4 linked regions of the Homo sapiens genome follow. The protein of the gene in region 1 interacts with the protein of each later gene in a biochemical or structural test. Each region holds a gene or a part of one and is shown on either strand. Other genes may lie near its edges. The genes, in order: RALA, RALGPS1, EXOC2 and PLCD1.

Region 1 (7,974 bases):
AAACCTGACTGATCATTGGAATTCAAGGGAGAGTGTTATTACAGTTACAGATGCCTTGGACTTCACCCAGTATTTTCTAATCCTAAATCTAAATATTTTCTGTTTAGAGTGGGACTTGAGAATCTGAATTGCCTTTGAAACTACACAGGTGATTGTGATAAGCAGTCACATTTGGGAACCACTGATAGAGTAGTCTTATCCTCTAATCCCTTGACAGAAAAGTATAGAAATATGTGGTCCACAAGGGTCGTCGGCATGAAGGGGAGAATTATGAAGACCCAAACTCTCATAACCCCACTCTTTACACATTCTCATTAAAGCTGTGTTTAGATATTCTAGATGACCCTTTTGTTGTGGGTCATCCGGACTATCTAAGCCCAACAAACATATCCAGAGGCATATCATACAGGTGACTGTCATCTGCATCACCTACTTAAGCCTATCTCTCCAAGGCATGACGTCATTAAAAATGAAGTGGGAAATTGAGGCAATGGTTCCACCAATTTAAAGTACAAACCCAAATAAACTATCTTCACATGAATGTGCTGAAAATGTGTACGACCTCCTAAAAAAGTTTCTGAGGTGATTGTATCAGCTTTTTTCCCGCTAATTCAACTAAACATCACAATATACATTTTACTCATCCCCAAAATATTTTCTGAGTACTTATTTTGGGCACCATGAAGGATACAAAAATGAATAAAACAATGTACCTGTCTTCAAGCTGGTAAAGATACAGCCATAAACATAAGAATTGTAGTTTTCAGTTTTAAAAACGTTAAGTTTGGCTGAATTTTGGAGATGCTGCAGGCAATCAATAATAAGCCAGAAATGTCCATATTATAAATACATTCTGGACTGTCATATCAAGCTGGTGACCCTGGTATAAAGTACTAAAAGAAACAATATATTTTGAGAATCTCAAAATGTGTGTTTGGGTATGTTACTTGACAACTGTAGTGAATTTTTAAGTCTTTAAAAACTAGTCTCAGAGCGCTAGTCTTTCAGCACTCTGAGCCTATTTCTTTCAACAATTTGTATCTCACAAAATTGTGAAAACAAAATGAAATAGTACAAATGTCAAGGTGTCACGGAATTTTTTTTCTTTTTTGAGACAGGGTTTCATTTTGTTGCCCAGGCTGCAGTACAGTGTAATGATCACAGGCACTGTAGCCTCGACCTCCTGGGTTCAAGGGATCCACCTCAGCCTACTGAGTAACTGGGACCACAGGTGAATGCCACTATGCCTGCCTAGTGTTGTTTTTTTTTAATTTTTTTTTTTAATAGAGATGAGGGCTCCCTATGCTGTCCAAGCTAGTCTTTAACTCCTGTATTCAAGCGATCCACATGCCTCGGCCTCCCAAAATGCTGGGATTACAGGTGTGAGCCACCACACCAAGTCATGGTGTCATGAATCTTATAGATAATGCTCATAACTCTAATAAATAATAAAACATGATTTTGAGTTGATTTTTCACCAGTGGTGACAAATGGCTATTAACCAATTACTTTCTTATCTGGCCCTAAAACACAAAGAAGCCTTGTTTGTCATTGCTGTTCCCAGATGTATAGTTAATATACATTATATGATAATTTTATAAATTGGTATATAAGCAAGTGTATAAAAATAAACATGCACATTATGTAGTCATGAATACATTTAAATGTTTACATTATGCATACACCTCTCTAAAGGAAATACTGAAGTCACCAATTTAATGGAAAAAATTCTCATCTACTTTAGGGATAGACATTGGACAAAACTTCACAAGTCTATATATTTCATTACATGTTTGTGATTAAACAGTGATGAGAATGACAGAGTTTCACAGGAATGTTCAACTTAATTGTGTCAAACATGTAACTGTCTATAAATTCTATAGGGACTGCATTATTCTATGGGGACATGAATAATGTTTTTAATACAAAATTCCAGTTAACTGACTGGAGTAGACTAATCATTAATTCTAAAACATGCTTCTGGCAAATCCCTATCTACCCTGTATTTTCCCCCAAAGCATATATTAGCTATGAGTAGCATGAATATAAAAGTTGTGGTTACCAAAACTTCTTTTTACTTCCCTCTTTCATTAACTATATTTGTTAATACACAAGGTTTGATCATAAATAGTAAAGTCAATTCACAAGTTAAGAAAAAAGATCTAAGTGTATTTCAAAACAGGATCCTTCATGTTCTTTGAGTAATCCAGGCAGCAAAGTCAGGAATGCTCATGGGTGCTACTGGATATTAGTGCTAATTACTAATAATATGTACTTACAATTATGCCCTTTCATCCAAGTACCTCAAAGAGCTTTCATAGCATTAATTTGTTATTTCCTATAATATCTTTGAGAGGCGGCTGATAGAAAGTTATTATTATCTCTATTTTACAGTCAGAGAAACTAGGGCATAGAGAGGTTAAGTAACATTGCTAGGGTCATACGGTGAACAACTGACAAAAAAGGGACTCAAGCTAATTATTCTCATTTCCTGTTCAGTATATTATCCATTATATGGTTGTTCAATACACCTAAATGCTTTTTTATCCTAGACAAATTGAGAATACTGTATTTAAATAATCTAAGACGTAAGTGAACGCGTTTCTCTTTTTTTGTGTGTTCAAAAATGCTGCTCTACAGGGATATAGAGTTAAAAACTAATAATTAGTCTTTGGTTTGCAGCTGTAGCTATTATTTATAGGGCTTTTACTATTTGTGGTTTTCTGAAGCTCTGCTCAAAATGAAGTATTCTATTTCTCACTGCTTTATGCTAGGTTAGCATAGCTGTGAGCCACCAAAAAGCAGCTGAGACAGGCTGACTAATGAATTTGAGGTTGTCTTTCATTGCGTTCCTATTGCTGACTCTTCTTGAAGTCATCCTCCTTCTAGCTCTCCATTCAGCAGATATTTGTGCAACCCACCATCCTCAATCCTCAGCCTATGGCCAGCTTAACTGTTGTCAATGATTAAATTTAAAATATTTTTATTGGAATGGAGCAATTCCTACAGAATAAAAAAGAAAAAAATTAAAATATTAAAATATAAACATAGATAATATTTCATTTTATGAGTTAATGATGCTATACTATTAATAGTTACCACTGTTACATCCAGTTTCTGCTAAACCTGACCTTTAGGGTCCTTAGAAGACCATTAAACATTAGAATATTGGTCTATGGATGGACACATATCACCATATTGGGTTTTTTAATGCAGTATTTCAGTAATTTTCCCAAGTAAAGGCAGGGAGAAAGGAGAAGTGGTTTTGAAACTGTGCTCAATGACGTAAGACTGCAGTCAGCTTGGTTATGGTCATCTAAACCTGTGGTGTTTCCAACTTCAGCCCAGCTCCTCCCTAGAGCTCTAGACCCATATAGCAACCACCATTAGACAGCACCACTCTTACTTCACTCATCAACTCCAAAACTGAACTCATTTTTTTTCTGCAAAAATGTCCCCTCCCAGGACTCATCCTAACTCTTCCTTATCTTATTTAGTAAAATACACCCTTATCCTGCCCCTCCCTCAAAGCAAAACAAGGCATCATCATTGCCTCTTCCATTCTCCTATCTGGCAGCTGCCCCTAGCAACCAATTACCAGTTGATATGGCCTCTTGAATATTTTAGGAATCCATCTCCTTTGGATGCTCACTACCATTCACACAGGGTCCTTAAGTTTTCTCTTACTGGCTTCTGCAATGGCCCCCTTGTGGGCTCTCTGCTTATCCTTCTCTGCCCCCCCACCTCCACCCCCCCAAGTTATCTGTTCTCTACCAACAGAAGAATAGCTTAAATTGTAATCTGTCCACTCATTGCCTCACCAAGGCATAGACGATTCGTGATTTGGCTCCTGTTTTCTTCTCCAGCCTCATCTTCTTCAGCAACCTAAGTTTGAACTTCAAGACCTGTAATTATTACTCATTCTTCTCAACAAATTATTTGTCCCCGTGCTGCATCTCCTTTCTGTTCGGATCCGGATTTGCCATCCCACCCCTATTTTTGTAGTAGAAAATGCCTATTTATCTTTAAAACTCTAACCTACGTTAGTAAAGCTATCCATTCTTCACGCTGTACATCTTGATAAACCATACTTCCAATAGCAATGATTTGCTTTCATGTATGTCTGCCCACTAGACTGGACATTCCTTGAATGGCTCATACCAGGAATATAGTTGGTACTCAATTTGTGGGGAGCAAAGAGAGATAAGCGAATAAATGTCAAGACATAAGAATCTGTAGCTGCTAACTTAAATTTACGGATTTAGTGAAACTACTTCTCACAAGCTACCAAATCACAGTGCCATGGGGCCGCAAGATGATCTCAGTGCCACACCGACACCTGCAGAGTCGCAGGGGGGTCCGACACCCCTCAGAAAGAACTCGCAGACCGTCCGAGAAAGCGAATTCTCCAGGGGATCAGCAGTTAGATGAGGCCCAGGGCAGCCACGAGACCCTCCAGCCAGGGTAGGCGGCTGACCCGCCTCCTGGGATTTGGCCCGTGACAAGCCACGTCGCCAGCTCCGCTCTGAATACCCCCGGCCACGCCACACGAGCGGCCTCAACCCTGAGACGCCCAGGGAACATGAGCTGACCCTCTAGAAGCAAGATGGCGGCCTCCGCTCTCCCCTCCTTCCCCCAAGAACCCCCTCCTGGTCCCCAAAAGAAAGACAAGGACACCGCGGCAACGACGCCGAGATCCGGGAACCTCCGCGAGGCCCGCGGCCACTCCCGAGCCCCCGGGAGATGACTTCACCTCGCGGAGCTCAGAGAGCCGGGGGTGGGGCCGTCGGAAAGACAGCGCGGACAGCCCTCAGCTTGCAGGGGGCGGAGGCCGGGCAGCCTGCGCCCTCCGAGCCACTGTTCTGCGGCCCAGGCCCATGATCACCCTCCTCTCAGCCCACGGACAGGAAGTCGCTCCCCAGCTGCCCCGCCCCGCTCCCCAGCGCCCCGGAAGTGATCTGTGGCGGCTGCTGCAGAGCCGCCAGGAGGAGGGTGGATCTCCCCAGAGCAAAGCGTCGGAGTCCTCCTCCTCCTTCTCCTCCTCCTCCTCCTCCTCCTCCAGCCGCCCAGGCTCCCCCGCCACCCGTCAGACTCCTCCTTCGACCGCTCCCGGCGCGGGGCCTTCCAGGCGACAAGGACCGAGTACCCTCCGGCCGGAGCCACGCAGCCGCGGCTTCCGGAGCCCTCGGGGCGGCGGACTGGCTCGCGGTGCAGGTGAGCGATGCCCGCTCGGGCCGCCCGGGGAGGGACTGGGGCCACCCGGGCGGCGGCGGGGGTGTGTCCGGGCGGCGGCGGGCCGAGGCCCTGACGCGGGTTCGGGCTGCCGAGATTGCACATCCCACGTTCTGCCCGGGGACGAGCTGCGAGATGAGCCCGGCTGGAATCCGGGGCACCGCGTTCGCCGCTGTGGGGCGAGTGAGCCCCCGAGAGTGAGCGGCTGCGGAGAGGTCCCCTGCGCCCGGCAGCCGGTCTCAGTTGGCCTCGTCCGAAGGTCACCCCGCACCTTTCGTCCACGGCGCCCAAGTTCCCGCCCGGGCGGTGCCCGCGACCTGGGGCAACCCGCTGCCGCCGCAGTCCCCGCGCCTCACTCCACCCCTCTCCCCTCCTTCCCTTTCTTTCCACTCCTTGCCTGTGCTAGAGCCGCTGCTTTTTAAGCATCTCCGCCAGGGTTTTTTGTTTGTTTGTTTTGTTTGTTTGTGTTTTTTTTTTTTTTTGCCAGTTAAAGGAATGGTTTTTCAGACTTAAAGTCATTAGACTCTCCGCACTGAACTGAATACCTGGCCTTGGGCGCTTGCACAGCTTTAGCCCATTTTCAGGTAATCTAGCTTCTAATATGAGGAAGAGAATACATTTTGGGAGAGAGGTGTTTCCTCTGTGGTTCGTTTCTGAAAGATTTCCAGAAGTGGAAGATGTGATTGGCATGCTTTAGCCTGGATATATGTGTTTAAGTAGACGGGGGTGACGGCACACAGGGGTGGCAGTGTTGTTTCAGGATTTAGGGAGAATTAGGGAGTTAACTGGCCTGTGCTCGGAAACCTGAATGTCCAGACTTGTAAGAGCTCATCCAAGTGTGGCTGAGGTAGTGTGAGAAGTCCCGTGCCACGCCCTACGTGTCAAGCTGAAAAGCACCTAATTTACAAATTGTGTGGTGTGGGGGGGGAACAACCTTTATAAAACATGTATCATAAGTTAATTCTTTTCCAGAAAGTAAATTGCAACTTTAATCATATTCCAGAAATTGGATAACAGATTTCATTGGTAAACTCTTACAGTATGTTTATTAATGTATTTCAGTGTGTCTTATTAGCTCATGTTTTTCTGTCTCTGGTAATACAATATTATTCTAAACCGACTCCTGTATTAAAATAATACACTATTATTGTGAAGTATTATCTGACAACACCGTTTTTTGACCTTGGATTTCTTTAGGGCAGGAGCCATGTCCTACTTATGACTGTTTCTATGCAGTATGCCTTGAACATAGAAGCTGTTCACACATTTCTGCACTGAATGAATGAGTGTATAGGTTATCTCACAGTCACCATCCAGGAGTTGCTTATTTTTGTTGGGCTAGGCTGTTTGTTTTGTTTTAGGTTCTTGCCACTTACAGACTTTACTTCGTGTTTCATTCTTCAGCAGTCAGAGTTCTTTGCCTTCCAAAACTATCCTCCTCTGAAAGGTTAAAATTATATTAAAATTGTGCTGGGCATTATAACTTGTATTCTAGTGTTAAATGCTTACTACTTGAGCATATTCAGAGTTAGTAGGAAGAGACTGCCTGGTGATACACATCAAGTTTATGTTTGGGGTTGATAACTGTACCCTATCTTAATGAAAAAGAGGAAATTAGGAGTTACCATTGTTTGGATAACGTGGTGCTTCCCAGAATGCTTATAGTGGTTCATTCTTCCCATGAATACACGCAATCCTCTGAAATCCTGATGTGACCTTGGCATGATTTACCAATAGCCTCTTTTACATTTATTTTCCAAGATCCAGATGCTGTTCTCTAGTGTGTTTGCTGAGTGTGCAATAATATGGATCATTTATTTTGAAGCAGTACTTCATTACAACACTTTCTTCACAGGGCTTTCCAAAGGAAGAAAGGGCTAATTATAGAAAAGAATCTTGTCTACCATTTGTGAGGGAATATTTTTGTCTGTAGATGGTTGGATTATTTTCACATTAGGGAGGTTCAAATAAGAAGAAAGTGCTGACGTTTTCTCTCCTCTCCAAGTATGTGGTGGTGGTCCTGCACTGTTTTTCCAAGCTTAGCTTCTACAGAACATAAATACATGTACCAGTGTCAATTCTTGTAGATATGCATATCAGTGTAATATGCATTTGTATTCTTTAGTAGATGAGTGGCAAGGACAATTACTTTTAAAATACTGGAATAAGAGGCTGTGAATGTTAATGAGGAAAAAGACTATGATTTTGAAGGAGACAGTTTATGATTTTCATTGTTTTATAAAATATTTTAACTCTTAGACACTAAGGAGAGGGAAGCCAGCAATTTCTTACCTCAGTGACATTACCACTATACAGAGGTTAGATTTTCCTTCTTTAATTCAGCAACCCTCTTGGTAATAAGAGTTCTCATGTGTTGATTGCCTGCCGAGCACTGTGATAAGAGCTTTACTTAAATTATTTCTAATCTCCACAACACTTCTGCAAGACAGGTAGTTTTCCCATACTTTATTAAGGTAAATTGAAGTTATTTGCCAGAGGCTAGGCACCTAGCTTGTGTTTAGTAGAGCCTAGATTTGAAAGTAACAATTGCTGAGAGCACTGAGTATTATTGCAGTTAATCCTAAATGGCTGTGGAAAAGGCAGTTCTGACTGAGCTGGAACTGGAGCTTCAGGAAGGTGAAGATACTGATTCCTCTCTCTTGGACATCAAGTGTGGCCTGGGGTTGCCAGCAGTCCTGGCCAGGTGGCCTCAAGCAGCAGCCATTCTTCTCTTTTATCTTC
Region 2 (7,623 bases), on another chromosome or scaffold:
GAGTCTCACTGTATTGCCCAGGCTGGAGTGCAGTGGTGTGTGATCTTGGCTCACTGCAGCCTCCACCTCCTGGGTTCAAGTGATTCTCCTGCCTCAGCCTCCCAAGTAGCTGGGACTACAGGCATGTATCACTGTACCTAGCTAATTTTTGTATTTTTAGTAGAGACGGGGTTTTGCCATGTTGGGCAGGCTGGTTTCAAACTTCTGACCTCAGTTGATCTGCCTGCTTTGGCCTCCCAAAGTGCTGGAATTACAGGTGTGAGCCACTGCGCCTGGCCAACAATAACTTTAAAAAATAGCTTTATTGGCCAGGTGTGGTAGCTCACACCTATAATCCCAGTACTTTAGGAGGCCGAGTCGGGCGGATCATGAGGTCAGGAGATCGAGACCACCCTGGCCCTGTCTCTACTAAAAATACAAAACATTAGCCGGGTGTGGTGGCACCCACCTATAGTCCCAGCTACTTGGGAGGCTGAGGCAGGAGAATCACTTGAACCCGGGAGGCGGAGGTTGCAGTGAGCCGAGATTGTGCCACCTCACTCCAGCCTGGGCAACAGAATGAGACTCCGTCTCAAAAAAAAAAAAAAAAAAAAGCTTTATTGAGATATAATTAACCCACTTAGAGAGTATAATTCGGCCAGACATGGTGGCTCATGCCTGTAATCCCAGCATTTTGGGAGGCCGAGGCGGGCAGATCACTTGAGGTCAGGAGTTCAGAACCAGACTGCCAACAAGGCGAAACCCTGTCTCTACAAAAATACAGAAATTAGCCAGGTGTGGTGGCATACACCTGCAGTCCCAGCTACTCAGGAGGCTGAGGCAGGAGAATTGCTCGAACCCAGGAGGCAGAAGCTGCAGTGAGCTGAGATCGTGCCACTGCACTCCAGCCTGCACAACAGAGTGAGACTGTTAAAAAAAAAAAAAAAAAAGAAAGAAAAGAAAAAGAAAGAGAAAAAAAGAAAAAAAAAGAGCGAGAGTATAATTCAATGGCTTTTAGTATATTCAGAGTTTTACAACCATCACCACAATTAATTTTAGAACACTTTCATCCTCTTCCAAAGAAACTCCTAAGTTGTTGCCCCTAAATCCTCCTCTCCTTCAGCCTTAGACAGCCACTTTGTCTACCCTCCATCTCTATAGATTTGCTTATTACGGACATTTCATATAAAAGGGATCATATAATACGTGGTCTAGCTTCTTTCGCTTAGCATGTTTTTAAGTTTCATCCATGTCGTAGCATGCATCAGTACTTCATTTCCTTGTATAGACAAACCATATTTTATTTATCTATTCATCACTTGATAGACATTTGGGTTATTCACATTTTTTGATATTGTGAATGATGCTGCCGTGAACACCTGTCTACAAGTTTTTGTGCAGACATGTTGTGTCCATTTCTTCTTGGGTGGTAAGTAGGAGTGGAGTGATTGAGTCATATGCTAACTCTATGTTTTCTAAAGTGGTTGTACCATTTTATATTTCCACCAGCAGTGTATAAGGGTTCCATTCTCTCTCTCTCTTTTTTTTTTTTTTTTTGAGAGGGAGTTTCACTCTTGTCCTCCAGACTGGAGTGCAATGGCGCCATCTCAGCTCACTGCAACCTCCACTTCCCAGGTTCGAGTGATTTTCTTGCCTCAGCTGGGATTATAGCCACTTGCCACCACACCCAGCTAATTTTTTTGTATTTTTAGTAGAGATGGGGTTTCACCATGTTGGCCAGGCTGGTCTTGAACTCCTGACCGCAGGTGATCCACCCACCTTGGGAGACAGGCGTGAGCCACCACGCCCAGCCAAGGGTTCTATTCTCTTCACCTTCTCATCAACACTTGTTATTGTCTATCTTATTTGTTGTAGCCATCCTAATGGGTGTGAAGTGGTATCTCATTGTGGTTTTGATTTGCATTTTCCTAATGGCTAATGATATTGAGCACTTTTTCATGTGCTTATTGACCACTGTGTATCTTCTTTGGAGAAATGTCTATTCAGATCCTTCTCTCTCTCTCTCTTTCTCAGACTGCACTTGGCTTTATTGCTTTAAGAAACCTATTATTTCTCGCTTATCACCATCTAAACTTTTCTGTCTTCTTTAACGTTGAACTCCCTTCTTCCTTGCTTCATTTTACTCCCATAGCACTTTTCTCTATCTAGCCTACTACTGTAAATATTGATTTTAATAGCTGCCTTACCCCACTAGAATGTCAACTCCACGAGGACAAGAATTTTTGTCTCTTTTATTCACTGCTGTTTTCTCAGCATTTACAGTAGCACTTGGCGCATAGCAGAGAACCATTAGATATTTGTAGAAAGAATGAATACATCCTTCTGGAAGCATCAAGAATCAATATTAAATGACCTTTCCTCATTTTAAAATTGGGTTTATAATAACTTCTAATATATCACAAAAGAATCTGTGTTCATTGAAAAAACTTAGAAAGTATGCATAAGCATAATAAAAGTATAGATGCCATTTAGCAAGCGTACATTGCACACACTTCTGTGCTTGCCCAAAGTCACACAGGTAAATATAATAGTAGCCAATGTTTATTGAGGTCCTGTTAGGTGCCAGGCACTCTTCCATGTATCATCTCATTAATTCCTGCCAACAGCCTGTCTAAAGAGGTTGCTACTTTTATCATTCTCATCTTTCAATAAAGAAACCGAGGCAGGTTGGGCGCGGTGGCTCAAGCCTGTAATCCCAGCACTTTGGGAGGCCAAGGTAGGCAGATCACCTGAGGTCAGGAGTTCGCGACCAACCTGGCTAACATGGTGAAAACCCATCTCTACTAAAATACAAAAATTAGCTGAGCATGGTGTGTCTGGCGTCTGTAATCCCAGCTACTTGGGAGGCTGAGGCAGGAGAATTGCTTGAACCTGGGAGACGGAGGTTGCAGTGAGCCAAGATCGTGCCACTGCACTCCAGCCTGGGCAACAGAGCAAGACTCCGTCTCAAAAAAAAAAAAAAAAAAAAAGAAAGAAACGGAGGCACATAGATATGCTAAGTAACTTGCTCACATGTACACAGCTTGCTGGTGGCAGAGCCAGGGCAGAACCATTGCACTACACTGTCTCTTGTTCTCTCTCTCTCTTCTTTTTTTTTTTTGGGACGAAGTCTCGCTCTGTCGCCCAGGCTGGAGTGCAGTGGTGCGATCTCAGCTCACTGCAAGCACCGCCTCCCAAGTTCACGCCGTTCTCCTGCCTCAGCCTCCCGAGTAGCTGGGACTACAGGCGTCCGCACCACGCCCGGCTAATTTTTTGTATTTTTAGTAGAGACAGGTTTTCACCATGTTAGCCAGGATGGTCTCTCTCTCTTTTTTGAGACAGGGTATCGCTCTGTCATCCAGGCTGGAGTGCAGTGGCGCCATCACTTGAGGCTCACTGCAGCCTTGACCTCCCGGGCTCAAGTGATACTCCCATCTCACTCTCCTGAGTAGCTGGGACTACAGTCTGCGCCACCACGCCTCGCTAATTTTTGTATTGTTATTAGAGACAGGGTCTGGCCATGTTGCCCAGGCTGGTCTCACACTTCTGAACTCAAGCAATCCTCCCGCTTTGGCTTCCCAAAGTGCTGGGATTACAGGCATGAGCCAACTCGCCAGGCTCTTGTTCTCTTTATGCAAAATAATTAAGCACCTTCTTCGATGATTACCGTTTTCTTAATACAAAATAGCAGAAACTTCTCCCAGAGGTCTTTTAAGACACAGGTGGTTTAACTTCTACTGACTCTATTTATATTCTTTTTTGTTTGTTTCTTTTTTCCTTTCATAAGCTTTGGGAAGCATAATAACCAATCATTCCATATTCATTCATATTACTGCAAAATTACTTTGAAGATTGTCAGAATGATGTTCTATTTGTCCAAGAATCTTTCGGAGTAGGGCAGGTCATAGTACCTCCTGTCTGTGGGAGGCAGAACGGAGTTTTGCTGTGGTTCCAGATTTCCAGGGATTCACAGACCTGGCTTCAATTGTCTTTGCAATTTATTATCCCTGCGACTCTAGCTAAATGACTTAACCTCTGTGCCCACCTCACCGTGCCTGGCACAGAGTAAAGATGTGGGAGCAGAGAGACAGGATCCGGGCTCATTCCCCAGCTTTGCTCCTGTGTGGTCTTGGGCAAGTCCCTTCACCTCGTTGGGCCTAACTCTGCCCAGCTGTAAAATGGATGAGACCGCCCCCCCCCCCGCCCCGCCAGGAACTCCGAGGTTTCTTCTGGCTCTGACGTTCTGGGCTCTGTGCCTACCTCCCAGCTGTGAAGAATGGGCACTAAGGCGATGTCTCGCTCACAAAACCATTTTTGTTGAAAACGATAAATCCCAGGTAGGGATTTACGGGGGATATCGGGTGAGGCCTGGACGGCCGTGTGGGGAATAAGATGCGCGGCTATTTCTAGGCAGGGGATGGGCGTGGCGGGCGGCGGGCCGGGTGTGCTGGCAGCGCAGCATCCCTGCGGGCGGGGAGGGCGTCTGCAGATGAGCTCGGAGGCCGAGGCCCGGGAGGACCGCGGATGCAGCGGCTGCGCACTGGTACGACCAGCCGGCCGATTTGCGTGTCTCCGCCCCTACAACGAGCTGGTTGGGGGGCTGTTCTGGTGCCGCGCGCCGATTGGATGAGAGGCCCGCCGCTCAGGCCCTGGAGCGGACGGTTCCTACTGCGGCTGGGCACCGGCTCCGCTCCCGCGTCTGCCCGCGCTCCAGCTGCGCCTGGCCCGGCCCCGGCCCGGCTCGGCGTGGCCCCGGCCTCCAAGCGAAGGCGCCGCTGCCGCTGGGCCGCTCCCAGGGCCATGAGGAAGCGGCGGCAGCCACTGCGGCCCGCGTCAAGGTGACCGGCCGGGACTGCGGCGGCGGGGAGAGCGGCGGTGAGAGGCGCGGCCGACGGGGCGGGGCGGGGCGGGGCGGGCCCTGAGGCCGGGCCTGAGGGAGCTGCAGGTGTGGGGGGCGGGACCCCGAGGGCCGCCGAAGCCGGGGAGGGGCCTCGGTGCGGGAGGCGGGGCCGGGGCCGTGCCTGCGGGTGCCCGGCGCCGGGGCCTGGCCGGGGTCCGGGGGTTCTGGGGTCCGGGGCCAGGGGCGCGCTGGTCCCCGGGAGCGTGAAGGACGGCGGGGAAGAGGCGCGGGCGCGGGGGGCGGGGCCGGGGGGGCAGTTGGGCGGGGCGCCGCGGCTGCAGGTGCGGGGGGCGGGGCCGGCGGGGCTGCCGTGGGCGGGGCTGTGGGGTGCGGCCCGCGCTGGACCCAAGGAAAGCACAGGTGCGGGGGGCGGGGCCCGGGGACCTGCAGCGGTGGGGGGCGGGGCCCGGGTGGCTGCGGTACGGAAGCAGGGCCCCAGGTGAGGAGCAGGCGAGGGTGAGTGGTCGCCCGAGAAGGAAAGGCCGCCCTCTCCGCTGCCCAGGGGTGCTTGGGTGGGAGCGGGGGCTTTGGGCTCCCTGAGGATTCTGGGGGCATCCGGGGCTGCCGCTAGAAGGGCCGTCCGGGCCTGCCTGTGCCTCTGCTGACTCGGGCTTGGAGCTCAGCTGCCCTGGTTACTGGCCGGTTGCCTCCCCTATGCTACGCCGCGCCCTAAGTGGGGCGCGCTGTTTTTCGCACCTCAGGGGCTTTCCTGTTGCTATTGAAGGGGCTTGCCAGGATGCGGGGGGCGGGGGGTTGGTTGTCATTGGATGATCGGTTGTTGAAAAATGTGTGTGCTTGAAGAGTAGTATGAGGCTTGGGAGGGGTCCTGGCTTGCTGGCCACTGGTACCAGAAGCTGCTGTAGATCTCAGCAGTGCGTCTCAAAAAGACTGAAATGGCAGCCTGTTAAGTGGGGAGAGCAGGGATGAGAATTCAGAAGCTTTTGACTATGCTACCTGGGAGAGTTTTTCACCTGTTTCCTCCGTTGCAAAATGAGCATGTTAGTACCTGCCTGTGTGCCTCCCAGGGGCCTGGTGAGGATAGGATGAAACAGTGCCTACTGAGCAAATCGCTGGATAAAGTTATGAGTTTCCTTTTTCTTGTGCCGATGGGCAGGTTGGATTCAGGGACTGGAGAGTCTAAAGAAGAGAGGGTTTGTTTCTAGTTAAGAGGTGAGACTAGACCACTGTCTTTTCGCAGTTTGGGATGAGGTTTTGTTGGGAGTTCCCAAAAGACTCAGCCGTGTCTTGGATCGTGACTGCTTCTCTCTGCGAGGCCTCTGAGGGAGCTGCTGCAACGCAGGGAGCAGTGGCAAGTGGAAGCAGCAGAACATTTGTTTGCTGACCTTTAGACCCCAACCCCGGTGAGGACTCTGAGCTGGAACATAAAGCTCAGGCCTGAGGCTATGGAAGTCCCTCTGCCCCCATCCAAGTACAGACCCCGATTTTACCACATTCCAAGAGGGTCGGGCGCGGTGGCTCACGCTTGTAATCCCAGCACTTTGGGAGGCCAAGGCGGGTGGATCATTTGAGGTCAGGAGTCCGAGACCAGCCTGGCCAACATGGTGAAACCCCCTCTCTACTAAAAAATACAAAAGTCAGCCGGGCATGGTGGCGGGCACCTGTAATCTCAGCTACTCAGGAGGCTGAGGCCGAGAATTGCTTGAACGTGGGAGGCGGAGGTTGCAGTGAGCCGAGATCGTGCCACTGCACTCCACCCTGGGCGATGGAGTGAGACTTTTCCATCTCAAAACACACAAAAATCCCCAAAAGAAGACCCCCAAAAGAAGGCAATGCCTGACTCCACTGTGTACCCACAGGGGCGGGGAGAAGGAAGCAGGATGACAGGGCTTTTTCTGAATTTCAGAAGAGTGTTGTATACCCATATATGTGACCTTTCAAAGCCCAGTGCCTCTGCTCACTGGTAGTTGACCAGTCCAAACTGTAATGCCTCCTACCTTCGTTGCATGGACAGAAGTGAAGGTAGGTGGAGCCTTCTCTACTAACCTGAATTTTTTTTTTTTCACTGTAGAAGCTGTGGGACTTTAGGGGCCAGGAACCATGGTGCTGGCCTCCCTCATTACCACTAGTTGGTGCAGTGGTGACCCAGTAGCATTGAGGGGATTAGGCCCTTACTGGTGCCTGTGCTTGTGTGGCAGGTCCCAGAGGATCTAGAAGCAGCATGTGAGAGTTCTCCCACTCTGTCTTGGCAGAAGCGGTGTTAATGGCTCTCAGAGACTGCTGCTGTCTGAGTGACCATCATGCTCTTTGGGTTAGAAGGAAAGCTCAAACTTGGTGGCAAAGAAGACCTAGAACATGTGTTGAATAATGAGGGGATTAGCAACATTCAGGGTGGAGAGAAATACTTCATTAATGAAAAATACTGCATGTGAGGCTCTGTGATATGGCCCACCTCTTGAAATGGATTTTCCTTTTCAGTATGGAGGGTAAGAGCTCAGACTTGGAAGTCAGTCAGGTCTGTTTGAAACTGCAGGCTGCCACCTCCTGCTGAGTGAACCAGCACTACTTCCTTAGCTTCACAGAGCTTTGGTTTCTTTATTTGTAAAGCAAGGATAACCATGCCCACCTTGTGAGGTTGTTATGAAGAATAAATGAGACGGGAGGGGAGAAGGCACCTGATCCACCTGGTTAGGGTCCTGTTCTGTCTCTCACTGCCTGCCCATCTTTCAACACAAGCTACTCAGAACAGCATGTAACATGCAAGGAGAGCAGGACAGGGAATTCTG
Region 3 (7,020 bases), on another chromosome or scaffold:
GGAGTGTAACAGGCTACAGCACGTGGCATGGCTGCACCCTTTCCCCTGCTGCCCCTCTAGTCAGCCTCTTCCCTAACCCCATCTCCCAGCAGCCACTGCTGACTTTCCCTTCCTCTCATTTTGTATTAACAGGTATTAGAGAGTGGGGAGCGAAAGCAGTGAGTTAACCACCAGGGCAAGCAGGGTTAGGGGCTAATTCCACTAGGCAAATCGCTTTGCTGCCTGATATCGCAATCTGTTTCCCCAACTGATGTGATACAGTCATCTAATTTTTTTTCTTTTTTTCAGATGGAGTTTTGCTCTGTCGCCCAGGCTGGAGTGCAGTGGCGCGATTTCGGCTCACTGCAACCTCCACCTCCCGGATTCAAGCAATTCTCCTGCCTCAGCCTCCTGAGTAGCTGAAACTACAGGTGCCCGCCACCACACCCGGCTAATTTTTGTATTTTTAGTAGAGACGGGGTTTTACCATGTTGGCCAGGATGGTCTTGATTTCCTGAAGTCGTGATCCGCCCACCTCAGCCTCCCAAAGTGCTGGGATTACAGGCATGAGCCACTGCGCCCGGCCCAAGTCATCTAATTTTTAAAGCTAGGAAGGATCTTAGAGTTTTCCTGGTTTGGATGCAGCAACCAAGAACTGGGTTTAACAGTACTGAGGTCAAGAGATTATTTCACGGTTTAACAATGTTCAATATTAGAATGCTATCCCCACAGCAAATCTAAAATATAGTCCTGACCTGGGGCCATTTCAGGGTGTGTATTGTTCGTGACACACTACCTTTTGAGCCCTGTTCCACATATGAAACGTAGCAGTGACTGTTTCAATCTTTTATCATATTTATTTTAAAGAAATGAACAGGGTTTGGAACCAATTCAAATAGAGGATGGAAGTTAGAGAAGCAGCAAGAAAAAGGAAGAAAGGGCTGATTGTGCAGGCACTGTCTGCACAGCTGCCATGTGCCCACGTGGGATGCGTGCGGGGCGGGGCGGCGATGCCCCCGGGGACTGATGGTGGAAGGGCTGGTCTGCTGCCTGCTCTGTGCGTCGATGCCATGTGACAGCTCCCCCCCATGGCCCAGCCTATGTGATCTCTCTGCCCTGCACTGAGTCTGCACTGCATTCACGGTGCCAGCATTTCAGTCAGTGCACCACATGTGCCTGTCTATGGGCCCGGCAGCCACGTGCAGGGCGGGTGGTGAAGGAATGAAGACTGCCTCAGCTCGGGGGAGCCTGGGCATTTATGAAATTTACCTGGCCTAGATTTTCTCTTAGGTCCGTTTCCTGTTCTATGAGTAGTAAAGTTTAAATTCAGGTTGAGATCATCAGTGTGGTCTAATGAAATATATATGTATATATAAAACTTTATTATGCCATATGTGCACATCTACTTTCATAACATTTTGTATTTTATAGAACACAAAATAAATACTACTGAATTACTCAAAAATTAAAAAAAAAATCACCGACTCCTGCATTTTACTATGCTGTCTTCTTTTTTCCATTACTTCTTATGTATGCTACTAATACAGTTTACTGAATAAGTCATAGATAGCTTTCTTAAGACCTTTTCTATACCAGTCACTTGAAACGAGAGCCAACTTCTAAATTCTCCTAAACCCAGAAGAAAGGTCTTACCTTATTCTGTCACTCAGAAGACATGCAAGTTACAGGTGACGAGATGTACCTACTAACGCTATTAAGTAGGTATATCTGCTTATTCTGATTCTTATTTGGATTCTGCTCTTCCTAGAATCCAAATCATTATTTTTAAAAGGTATTTTAGGAAACAAAACCTTGTTGAGCACATTCAACTGGCTCCTAAGAACAGCACACAGGACTTACTTTTTATCTGCTCCACTGGAAAGCTGGGGCAGGGCTTCCAAAGCCTGCTTAAAACTTGACCTGAAACACAAACAGCCACACTGAAGTTGAAGCCTTGCACAGGAGAACTGCTGACAAATTCTTAAGCATCCCTTAATTATTGAGAAGCCAATAAAAGCCAGTGAAGCAAGGAAATATGAGAAAAAGTAAAAGTGAAAAACAATAGAAAAAGTAAAAGTAAAAGCGAAGGTGTAGCTACCAGGTGGAGGCTTTGTAGCAACGGGGTCAGAAAAACTCAAATAGGAAATGAAACGCTACTTGAAAAGCTAAAGGAAAAACATCTTCGAAAGGATGCTAGTGATAGAGGAGAGCTTAATGTGAACATGTTTAATTTAAAAGGAGTCTTTTCAAAACAAGCAGCTGGGGATAATCCAGTTACTCTAAGAAATGGGGATGACCTTCTGAAAGATGACACAGTGGGGTGTTTACAGTATTTGGCCTGCACAGGGCCTGATCTACAGCCAATGTCTTGTAATAATTACAGTCTACTTAAAACTTGTAGAAAAATGGAGAGCTATATAGATGCTTTAAAAATTCAATGTAAGTTCTTTACATGAAGGTAAAAGGAAAGAATTTTAAAAAGAAAACTGTGGGATGTTTAGCTTTTACAAGGAGAAAGTATTAGAAAAATTACCAAACCAAATGAAAAGCATCATAGGGGAGACTGTGGTAATTAACTTGTACCATTCACAAAGGAACAGTTCTTTTATCTCTCTTATGATTGGTTAAGGTGAAGAAATACTGCAATTCTTGACTTTAGGGGGTCGTTGCTTTTATATTGTAAAAACATCCTCAATCTACCAGGAAATACGTTTTTGAGCAATATTCCTCAAATCAGGGGCAAGTGTCACAGCAACAGAGAGAAAGACTGAAAAGTTCCAACAGAGTCATAAAACCCGGTGCTGGGCATCTCCAGCTGCTCCCGGGAGGGCGCGGTGGGGTGTGGGACGGGTGGCTTGGCGCACTCGGGTCCCTTCCCACATTCAGCGGCCTCTTTCCTGGTGTGGAAGCCACTGCCGCTACCTCCACCATCAGCTTGTTTCTTATGAACCTCTTTTTGATTAATTGAAAGAAATGTGATGTAATTGTTTTGACAGTATGACAATAATGATAAACATACTACATATTATTGGCAGGGTACTGAAAATTAAAAAGTGATTTGGCACATTTTCTCATTTAACACCCTCAAAAGCTTGCCTAGAATATTTTAAACTTCCTCTATAGATGAGTACCTTATACTCTAAAACTAAGTCAGCAGGAAGAGGGTAGGCATTTGCATGAAGTGTGCACACATCCAACATGGGCTGGGTGCTTTCCATCCTGTTAGTATGTTGTACAGACAAACGATGGCTGGGAAAAGGTGTGGCTCAACAGTGAACATGGCCCACTAAAAATGGCTGCTGGTGAGCTGTGACCGACGGGAATGAAAGGCTAACTTCATTGGTTAGGAAAAAATGGAAAACGTATTTTCAGTTGCAAAGCTGACAGAATGACAGCAAGCCATGTTATCAGATGCTGGAAATGAGTGAGTAAGCATATTACAGTGTCCTCAAACATTTCATTTGCATACGACTTGGCTTCTCAGGCACATCAACACTATAACCCAGTATTTCCTAGGTAATGTTGCCCACGTAGTAAACAATTTTGCACAGACAAACAGTAGTTCTGCTTCACTTCACCTACTGATATTTCAATGGTAGGAAATCCTGACTTTCATTCAAAACAGCTAAAAATTATCAAATTTCCACTACAAAATTTTGCAGAGAAACCACAAGGCTTCCTCTTATACTGATATTTACAGCACTTGAGCTGTCCTTCAGAGTCTGCTATGAACAGACTAAGACTCAGTTCTTATCCTCTTTTGCTTTAAGAAGTATGTCATACTCTGCTGTATTATAAGACTAAGATTTGTCAGTAGTAAATGAAAAAATTATATTAAACCCCTTTCATTTACATTGTGTTACAAAGTGGCCTTGACATAAACTTTATCACATCACAAATTCATGAGCATGTGCTCTGATCAGTCATCTTTACAGAGGACAGAATTGACTAGTAAGACAACCTTTATTTTTAATAGAGCACTCAACTAAAGAACACTGCCACTTACTTGCTTTCGGGTGTCAGGTAAACAGCCACAGTGTCCCTCAAAGCACAGATTTCAAGTCTCGCCTGAAAATGAGAAAAAGACAAAGTGACAACAGGAAAATTTATATTATCAAATATAAACAAGTACTAAGGTTAAGGGTCTCCAGCCTGCTCATCGTAGGATGGGGTTGGCGTAATACCACCATGGTGACCGCCAGTCATGAGTAGAGTTTCTAAAACAGTCCGAAGAAATTTGCTACCACAAAATGTTCGTTGACTGAAAATTAACTTGTAGTCAAGGATGACTGTGTGAGGGCAGGGAACTAGATATCTCACTATGAAAAGTACAAACTGTGTCATGATTTTCCAGCCATCTGTATTTACTCTCTAACCACTAATTTTTCTTTTAGTCTTGCAAGAGGAAAGACACTTTGAAACACTGCCCTGAAAGGGCCCGTGTCCCACAGAGGTAAGGATGTGGCTTGGCATGCTTCCTGACACCTATGCCCTTGCAGGCACACTGCCTTAATCTCAAAACCTAAACTCTGCTCTATGGATTCAATGCAATCTCTATTAAAATCACAGCTGCTTTTTTTTTCCTTAATGGAAACTGGCAAGCTGATTGTAAAATTCATAAGGAAATGCAAGGCACTCAGAACAGCCAAAACAATCTTAGAGTAACACATTTAGAGGCCTCAGACTTTCTGACTTCAGCCATACTCCAAAGCTAAAATATATTTAAATATTGTATACCCTCATATTTATGATCAACTGCTATTCAACAAGGGTGCCAAGACCACTCAGTGGGGGAAGAACAGTCTGTTCAACAAATGGTGCTAGGGCAACTGGATATCCACATGCAGAAGAATGAAGTTGAATCCTTTCCTTAACACAAAAATTAACACGGATCACAGATCTAAATGTAAGAAACTTATGAAACTATCAGAAGAAACCCAGTGTAAATCTTTGTGACCTTAGGCTAGGAAACCCTTCTTAGAAATCATGCCGAAAGTATAAACAACAAAACAGATAAAGTGGACTTCACCAAAATTAAAAATCCAGTGCTACAAAGACACCATCCAGAATGTGAAAGGACGACCCACAGAATGAGGTATCACTTCACACCCACTAGGATGGCTATAATCAATAAGAGACAATAACAAATAATGGTGAGGATGTAGAGACATTGGAACCCTCAAAAATTGCTGGTAGGAATGTCTGCCACTTTGGAGAACCGTCTGGCAGTTCCTCAGAAGATTAAGTATAGAGTAACCACATGACCTAGCAATTCCGCTCCTTGGTATGCACGCACGAGACATGAAAACACATGTCCACACAAGAACTTGTATAGGAGTGTTCACAGAAGCATTCTGCATATTAATCAAAGGTGGGAAAACCACAAATGCCCATCAGCTGATGAATGGATAAATAAAATGTGGCATATTTAAAGTGGAATATTATATGTAAAAAGAAGCGAGGCACTGGCATATGTCACAACATGGATGAACCCTGAAACATTACGCTACATGAAAGAAGCCAGTCACAAAGGGTCATATTTTCATGTTTCCATTTATACGAAATTTTCAGAGTAGACAAATCATAGAGATAGAAAGCCAATTGGTAGTTGTCTGTAGGGGGAAAGGGTGGTTTGGGAGGCAAATGATTAGACTTAATGGGTCAGGGGTTTCTTTTGGGATGAAATGTTCTAAAATTGATGATGGTGATGACTGGACAGCTCTTTGAATATACCAAAAATCATTGAATTGCATATTCTTTTTCTATTGTAGACAGATCGTATGCTATGTGAAATATTTCATAAAAGTTTTAAGAAAAAAGTTAAGCTTTCACTTCTACGCAAGCATGAATAAGTGTGATCTGACATACAAGTCAGTTTCCTGGGAGCTCCAGCAGACCCACTGACAATGATAACTTGATGTTCTGAAGTAGGTGCCCACAGTGAGTGGGACACACAGGAGAACATTTAAAAGAAATATCCCTTATTCTCAAGGAGTGGACAAAACATAAAACAATGACAAAAGACACAGCCAGCTCTTCACAGTTTATTAGAAATTCTGTAAGCCATCTAGATCAAAGCAGATATATATGACACAGGATATTCAGTGACCTTTTTCTGTTTGGAAGGCAATTGTTTGGTTTCATTTTTTCAGTCCCTTAGAAGCCTGAAAAACAGTATATAACTAGAAAGTTACAAATGCTAGAAAGTATGACAATTTCTGTCTCTATTTTGTTTATATTCTAGTATAGGTAAAAACAGACCTACCAGGAAAAAAGGTAGAACTTTCAGCTGACCATTTTAGGAGAAAGATTAAATTACTACAAAACCAATCTTCTGGTAGAAATTTTATTCAATCAAGGTGATAGAGTGTTTTAATTAACCTGTAAGTTATGCCAATTATAAAAACTGTGGTTAGCTATATAATACCTACAAAACTGTAATCCAGAAAACATCATGCTAAAAGATCTGCCAAAATCACCAAACTGTCACTCCCCTTTTCACCAAGCTCTCAGGACAGTTCTGGAGTTTGGCACCTAATTGCCTATCAAAGGTTAACCTGCTATCCCTCTTAGAGCTATGGCCTCAAGGAAGGAAGCTCTCAAAGTCATTCTCAGTGGGAGAGTGAAGCGGGAGTTTAGACTCACGACCTTTTTCAAAATACACATGTCTGTCCAGGCCCGAGGAGGTCTCAAAAACTGGAGGCTGGAACAGTTTGATGGCCAGTAGTTTCTGGACATGTGTACGTGAAAAAATTTTCCAGCTAATTCTGAGATCACTTTCCAACCTCTCCCTGCTGGTTTTGAGAGTGGTTTAGCCATCAGATAAATGGATTACGGAGGTAATGTGTAGAGAGGGCGGATGCCTGTTAAAATTCTAAGACTGCTAAGGCCCACAGTAGCGACTGCGACTGCCTGTTAATTCATCTGTAGTATTACACAGTTTATACTACTCATCTCCTGTGATGGAACTATTATAATAACCATGACCTTTCAACTTAAACGATAATATCAAAGATCTGATACATCAATTTTCAGAGAAAA
Region 4 (7,380 bases), on another chromosome or scaffold:
CCAGCTAATTTTGTGTGTGTGTGTGTGTGTGTGTATTTTTAGTAGAGACAGGGTTTCGCCATGTTGGCCAGCCTGGTCTTGAACTCCTGACCTCAGGTGATCCACCGGCCTCAGCCTCCCAAAGTGTTGGGATTACAGGCGTGAGCCACCGTGCCCAGTCATAAAAGGTGAATTATTACAAGGCCCAACAGGACTTGGTCCCGGTTACCTCTCTTTCTCCTCCCATGATCAGCCCGCCCCACTTCCCCGTTCTCTTGCTCTCTTAGCTCCAGCCACATTGGCCTTGTCCTCCTTGCTCATCCTCCAACATACCAACACCCTCCTGCTTCAGGGTGTATTTCCTGTGCCTGGAATCTTCTGCCCAGATATCTCTAAATGTCTCAGTCCCTCACTTCTGTCAAGGCTTTGCTTGACTGTCACCTTTCCCATAAAATCCAGCCTGATCAACCCTTTTAAAATTTAATTCTGTCAGGTGAGGTGGATCGCTTAGGGTCAAGAGTTCAAGAGCACCCCAGCCAACATGGTAAAACCCGTCTCTATTCAAAATACAAAAATTAGCTGGGCGTGGTGCCACACACCTGCAATCCCAGCTACTCAGGAGAATCACTCGAACCTGGGGGGCAGAGACTGCAGTGAGCTGAGATCACACCACTGCACTCCAGCCTGGGCAACAGAGCGAGACTCCATCTCAAAAAAAAAAAAAAAAAAAAAATTAACCCTATCCCATTCCTGAACTGCTTTAACCCACTTTTTTCATTTTACTTATTATCTGCTAATATCCTGTACAATTCATTTCTTACATTTGTTAAAATGTCTCTTTTCTTTCCATTAGAATTTGGGCTCCAGGAGGGCAGGGGTTTTTGATGTGTTTTGTTCACAGATGACTCCCAAGCCTCTAGAACAGTGCCCACTACACAGTAGCTGCTCAATAAATATTTGTTGAATAAGTGACATAGCAGAACAGTTTTCAAATGTGGGTCTCTTCAGTTCACACATCCCATAAGTGTGTTTCCTCCTTCAGGTGAGTTACCCTCTGCCTCCTCCTTCAGATAAGGGTCTGAGGGCAAGTTTCCTGTCTGTTCCCCATGCCAAGCACTGTATTCTGCCTCTGGGGTGGAGGTGAGCATTGGGACTCAGTCCACAGTGAAATAAACATCACAGTTACATTCACAAATGAATACACAATAAAATCCCACAAATATAATTATAGAATAGTAACCCCAAATAATCCCATACTGTCCTGGGACTACCAGCAGGTCCAGCAGCCTCATAGTTCACTATGGCATCCTGGATCCCTGCAAGGTCAGGACCTGAGGATCTGACCCTGCATGACCTGAGGACTCTCACTTTGCCACAGCTGCTCCCTTGGGAGGAGCAGCCTTCACTTTTCCTCCTGATGCATCTGGACTTGGGCCCATGACCCTCTGGAGGGAGCTCCTATGGGGGTTTTGCAGCCCTCAAAAGCAGCAGGGGCATGACCTCAGACCAACAGCCTCAGGTTGGGCTCTGGCCACCTGGATCTGTAGAGGAGGCCAGGCAGAGGATGGCTGTGGGAATATGGGATTCTGGTGGCCTTCTAGCAGGTACTTATTTGTGCCCTGTACTTGCCATCCATTACTTCTGCCAGTTCTAAGGATGATTATAGCTCCTGATTGAGGAGCTCAGAGAAGCGAAGTCACTTTTCCAAAGTCTTAACAGCAGGAAGCTGCAAAGTCAAGATTTAAACAGCCCCTTCACCCCATATCCTGGAGCAGAGGCTCTAAAGACAGGGAGGGGGCAGAATAAACCCCATTCACCTCACCTACCCAAGCTGGGCTAGGTTTGCATTTCATGGGGGAGGGACTGGAAAGGGCCAGCCCTGAAGCACGCTTGGAGCCTGACCATCCTGAACGTTGGCATTCTTGGGTGATAATACCCCCTCCTCAGGCCTCCAGAGAAAGTAGTGGTGGAGAGACCAAGTGAAGTGGCTTGAGGCAGGCACTGGTGCCAACACTAGGTCTCTCTTCCCTGTCTCCAGTGATCCCAGAAGCTCCATCACCCCATCCATCCTCACACAGACATAGAAGACTGGGCATGGTCAGGAGAGTGAGATGCCAGAAACTCCCCCATTAAAGAACTAGTCTTTGGGGCATGTGTGGGCCCTCTGTGTACCCAAACTAAGCCTGCCAAATAGCCCTCTGAGTCACCGGGATCTCAGGGCATCTTGCACAGGCAACTGAGAGCTGGGTTTTGAGGAGGGTAATTTAGGCACCTGGCCAGGGCTGGGCCCACAGACGGCCCTGGGAGTTGAGGGCAGAGGGAGTGAAGGCAAAGGGAATGGAATCCAGCAACTTCGTGACTTGGTACAAAGCCTCTTTGCCTCCTCTGAGCTCCAGCCCCTCCACACAAGTTCACTCATACCACACAGGCTTACCCCTAGCAGGAACCAGCAGAGCACCTCCCAGCCTGTGAGAGCCAGGAGGGGCCGATAGCCAGGGGAAGAGAGGAGAGGACTGGAGTGAGGGCTCACCCACGGCTCTGAGCAGCCGCCGGGTTTCTCTATGAGCAGGGCGGGGCCCAGCCCTCATGTCTGGCAGAACCTGGTTGCATGTGCCAGCTCTGAGTCAGCAGTGCCCATCCTGCCCAAGAACCCTGGGCTAGGGAGGAGGCTGCAGCTCCTATGTCTGTGCCAGGGGCCAGAGGAGGGATTCTGTGAGGTGGGTTTGGAGCATGCAAAGGAAGAGCCTGGCTGCATCCCCACCATGGTACATAGACAAAGGGAAAGGAGAGGCTCCCAGGTAATGTCCTGGCTTGGGGCCTGGGGCTCAGAGTTGGGAGATGATGTGAATACATAGGAATGATGACTGAGATGAAGCCATGTCCACTCCTGGTGTCAGAGTTTCACTGTGACGCTGCCTAGGAAGAGGAGGGGGGCTTGAGGAGGCCTGATTTGCTGAGTACAGGGGCTTGCAGGCTCCAGGAGTATCAGAGGTGCAAGTGGTAGGCTCCAAGGCCTGAGGAGGCCTCCAGAGGGCAGAGAAGGGGACCCTTCTTCCCCACTCATCCCCTGTATGGAGGTCCAGAGTGATGCCTGCCAGTATGAATTTGCTCATCCCTCAGCAAACATGGAGTGTGGCCCTGGGCAGAAGGGAAACCAAGGAAGGAACTGACAGGCCTGCCCAGGGCAGGGGTGTTCGCACTGCAGGACAGGATTGGAGCTGAGTGCCAGGTAAGGGGTGAAGCCCCGTCTGTGGAGAGGGGGCATGCAGAGCAGGGGGCTCTCCAAAGCCCAGAAGTCCTGATCCACTTTTAACCCCCAGAACCAGAAGACTGTCCTTCAGCTGTTTCACATCCCTTATTCAAGGCCACCTAGGGCCCAGAAGAGGAGGGATTGGGGTGAGCCCAGCCCCCTCCCCGCAGAGCTGGTCCAACTAGCTTTGCCTGACTCTCACATTGGCCTTATCAGCCCAGGAGGCCTGGGTGGCTTCCTGGGAGGCCCTCTGGGGGCTCTCTGACACCAAGAGCCCAGTTTTCCCAAGGGACTCTCCAAAGGGGTGGTGGGCAACAGGATCTAGGGACCCTCCCAGGGTCTGTGGTGGGAGGGGTCTCTGGGCAACCTATAAAGGGGGTTTTCTGGGTCCCAAGAGTTAGGGGGTGGGTCTGCATAGGGACCTTGCCCAGACAGCCCCTTGGGAGGCCACCTGAAGAAGGGACCCTGGGGATCCTCCCCCTCGGCTGCATGGATCGCTGGGGTTTTGGGATATGAGTGGCTCAAAAGTGAAATCCGTGCACCTGCTTGCTTCCCCCTCCCACACCCCCAACACTCCACCAAAGGCACTCTTGGGGTTAGAAACCTCCCAGCGAGAGGGAAGGGGACCCTCCTCCCGACAAGGTCCAGGTATTGCTCTCTGAAGACCTTCTAATCGTGTCCGTGCACCCATTTCGCAGAAGGGAATGCGAACGCTGGGAGCTGCGGCTGGAAGCCTGGACGCCGCGTCTCCCTAGCGCAGCAGCCCGGCTGGGCGTCGGACCTTACACGATCCCTTCCCCGGGATGACGCCGGATTCTTTCCAGCATCACCCCGACCCCAGCGAGGCGCCCACAACAGGGCGTGGGGCCCGGCCGCCCGCGGTAATGACAGGGCCCGCGGCCCGTGGGTGGCGGCGGCGGAGGAAGCTGGAGGAATCTGGCTATTTCTGGTCGGGGCGCGCCCGCTGGCCCGGGCCAGGGTTGGCCAGTCCTCCGGGCCCCCAGCTCTGCCCTCCCTCTCGCGTCCCCAGAAGGGGGCGGGGAGAGACGAGGGTTGGCGGGCTCAGGGGGCGGGGGCGCAGGGCAGCGGGGGCGGGGCGGTGTCCCGGGACCACCCCCGGCCTCCTCCCACCGCGGTCCATTCAGGTCCCTGCACCGCACTCCGCTCGGACCCCAGGCCGCCGGTGCTGTCGCTACTCAAGTGAGTCCCGCGGTGCCCCTCCCGCCGCGCCGCCCGTCGGGCATGGACTCGGGCCGGGACTTCCTGACCCTGCACGGTGAGTGCCTGGCCCGCGCGAGCGGGAGACCCTGCAGGGGTGGACCCCTGGAAAGCTGTTCCGGGCCCTGGACAGGGAGCCCCCAGCTCCTTCGGCCGCCTCCACACCACCCCGGGCCCGCCTCTCTGCCCCTTCTCCGGACTGGGAAAATCTCAGCCCGCGGCTCCCTGGGTGGGACTGCCGGGCACGACCCTGGGCGTTTCCAGGCTTGTCCGAGATCTAGCCCGGGGGGTGGGTGGGCGGGCGGTACGGGTCTAAAGACTTCCCTCCGCCTCGCGGACCCCCTTGTCCTGGTCATGAAAGTCTGGGCTCCACGATCCCGCTCGCACGGAGGGGCGGCGAAGGAAGGAAACAGCATCCAAGAACGACCAAAATTCTCCTTGCCCCATCCGGGCCGCCCCAGAGGCTCCCCAAAGCCTGGGCGTGCCTGGACCGCGTCAGGCCGCGCGGGTGTGGCGGAGCAGGGGCTAAGCGGGTGGGGAGAGGAGGTGTGCAAGGTTAACCGTGGTCGGGCCGTGCAGCCTTAACTGCCCAGCGCAGAATAGTCAGCGATGCTCAGGCTGAAAGAAGCAGCACGATCCCCTCATCTGCGACCCTCCTCGGGGGACAGGGCCAGGTCTCAGCCGGAGCTGCCTGCTCCATCCTTTGTCCAGCGGAGCTTTGTTTCCTCCAATATGAGCCAGCTCTTTGCCCTTTCGCTGTCCCTCCAGCAGCGAGGGGAGCCTGGGCTCCCGAAGGCAGATCTGGAGGCCTTCTGGGAGGCGGGAGGTTGGGGAGGGTAACTTTGGGCGCCTCTTTGCTCCAGGACAGGCACTCACTCACTCTTGGTGGGGGCTTGCCCTCCTGCCCTCCCAGGTCACTTGCCATCTCAGCAAACCCTGCTCCTTTCATACCAATCACTGCTTTACTGTATATCCCTCTCTTTTTTAGTACCCTTGGGGTTGGAGGCTTTAGTGGCCACCACCCATCCATCTAAACTGTTCATGGACATAATAGATGGGAAAGAGAAGGGCAGAGTCCTCTAGCCTTCCACTAGAGTCCCCCTGGAATTTAGAGGGACTTAGAGATGTTCCCATCAGCCAGCCTCCAGTCTATCTCGTGTTCTGCAGTTGGCACAGACCTGGTCCTCCTGGCCCAGAGAGACCTTGCTCTGTGCCCAGAGCTGTTGCTTTTACACCAATAGCCTAGGCTCCTTAAAGCCACCTTGTCTAGATGAGTCATGGAGTCCCTGCCCCTTCCAGTGCTCCCTCTTCTTTCTTCAGGCCAGAGGTGTCTTTCGTGCGCCTGCCAGACTAGCAAGAAGGGAGGCTGGGCAGCTGAGAGGACACAGTGGACATCTCTGCTTTCTCTCTGACACAGCGTCATTCCTTGGCTCCTGTTGGAACAGGCTTCATCCTCAGTGTCTGTGCCTTTGTCCAGTTTCTCTCCTGAGGCAGCCTTGATATCTTTTCCATGGAGGAAGACACATGGAGGCTCAGTCAGGACCTCCCAGTCCTGTGGCATAGGCTTGGCTGCCCTGGCCCACCCCATTTGAGACCAGCCTCCCAAATGCCTAACTCAGTCCAGCCTTTCCTGAAGGGTTGACATGAACACTGTGACCCCAAGCTGTTTTCCCTGAAGGCCCTGCCACTTCTAGCTCATCACCCAAAATTACCTCAACTGCCTTCTGTCCACACTGCAAACCAGATGGGGAAATAAGAACCTGTCAAGGAGAATTGTTGGTGGGAGGGGGTGATCACTGTGCCCTGTGCTGTTCCAGGTTGTCTACACTTGCATTGGAGAGTCTGCATCCGTTTCACAGTGTGGGTGCCCCAGCACTGGATGTGCTGCAGGACCACACTCTCTGGCCTAGGGCTCCACACTCTCTGGAAGGAGCCCAGAGGGACTCCTTCTGTTGGCCTGGGGAGCTATGCGGCTCACCTAGATGTGACATGTCCCTTCTGTCCTCACCCCAGATGCATGCAGAAGTAATGTAGTTTACTGGCATAGATTCTGAAAGCAAAGTACCTGAGTTCAAGTCTTGGCTTTCTCATCTCAGATGAATCCCTTGACTTCCCTGTGTGTCAGTTTCCTCATCTGTAAAATGGGGGATAATACCATCTACCTCATAGGGTTGCTACGAAGATTGAATGAGATAATATCTACACAGCAGTTAGAACAGTGCCTGGTACCCAGTGAGTACTATGTTCCTGCAGGAGGCCCCCTCCCCAAATTTCTATGCCCTATGAGTTGCCATCTGTAGTTCTTTGGGAGATGATGGGGGCATCATAAGGTAGTTCCTAGTCATGGAAAATAGGGCCAGAACTAGATTCAAGAGCGAGCCAGCCAGCTCTTTCTAGTGCCTCTGAAGCCCTCAGACTGATGCGACAGCATCCATCCTCCTTCCTTCACCTTACTTCTTCCACTCTTTATTCTGGCTATGCCTGGACTGGCTTCTCTAGCAGGTCCCCCGATGTGCCCCAAAGGACATTACCTCCCAGGGCCCTCCCCTCACTGAACACCCCCCACATACACACTAACTTTTCCTACACCCAATCCCTTTTGCCCCCACCCCTGCAAGAGGTGCCGTTTGTAAAAACAGAAAATAGAGGGGCCTCATCTTGGCCCCAGTAGACCTGGGCTCCAGTCCTAGCTTTGGTTCTACTTACTGTGGGTCTGAGAATCATCCATGGGATAGCAGTACATATTTCACAGTGGGTGTTGTGAACATAAACGCCAATGGGCATAGAAATTCTAGGTTGCCCCAAAAACCAGTCCTCCAAGAGATGATGATTCCAGAGCTCTTAGCAAGTTGGGGTGGCCAGCTCCTCACTCACCTGTGTTCCAAAGCAGTCTGCCCCTGGGCTTCCAGGCCCATGCTACACAGGCACACACT

Evidence for each region.
Region 2: of the proteins of RALA (region 1) and RALGPS1, one has a biochemical effect on the other in vitro, tested with the Homo sapiens proteins (one study listed by BioGRID).
Region 3: the proteins of RALA (region 1) and EXOC2 are reported together in a solved structure, tested with the Homo sapiens proteins (2 studies listed by BioGRID, with this or other methods).
Region 4: the proteins of RALA (region 1) and PLCD1 form a complex in vitro, tested with the Homo sapiens proteins (one study listed by BioGRID).

The regions. Positions count from the first base shown.
Region 1 is NC_000007.14:39,618,612-39,626,585, forward strand, and holds the start of RALA (ras-related protein Ral-A precursor), read left to right. Parts: upstream 1-4,960; 5' UTR 4,961-5,214; intron 5,215-5,715; exon of another isoform or gene 5,716-5,816; intron 5,817-7,974. UniProt on the Homo sapiens protein: Multifunctional GTPase involved in a variety of cellular processes including gene expression, cell migration, cell proliferation, oncogenic transformation and membrane trafficking.
Region 2 is NC_000009.12:126,910,159-126,917,781, forward strand, and holds the start of RALGPS1 (ras-specific guanine nucleotide-releasing factor RalGPS1), read left to right. Parts: upstream 1-4,623; 5' UTR 4,624-4,817; exon of another isoform or gene 4,818-4,854; intron 4,855-5,280; exon of another isoform or gene 5,281-5,335; intron 5,336-7,623.
Region 3 is NC_000006.12:487,140-494,159, forward strand, and holds part of EXOC2 (exocyst complex component 2), read right to left. Parts: intron 4,048-7,020; coding exon 3,986-4,047; intron 1,900-3,985; coding exon 1,840-1,899; intron 1-1,839. UniProt on the Homo sapiens protein: Component of the exocyst complex involved in the docking of exocytic vesicles with fusion sites on the plasma membrane.
Region 4 is NC_000003.12:38,026,631-38,034,010, reverse strand, and holds the start of PLCD1 (1-phosphatidylinositol 4,5-bisphosphate phosphodiesterase delta-1), read left to right. Parts: upstream 1-4,368; 5' UTR 4,369-4,471; coding exon 4,472-4,505; intron 4,506-7,380. UniProt on the Homo sapiens protein: The production of the second messenger molecules diacylglycerol (DAG) and inositol 1,4,5-trisphosphate (IP3) is mediated by activated phosphatidylinositol-specific phospholipase C enzymes. Essential for trophoblast and placental development.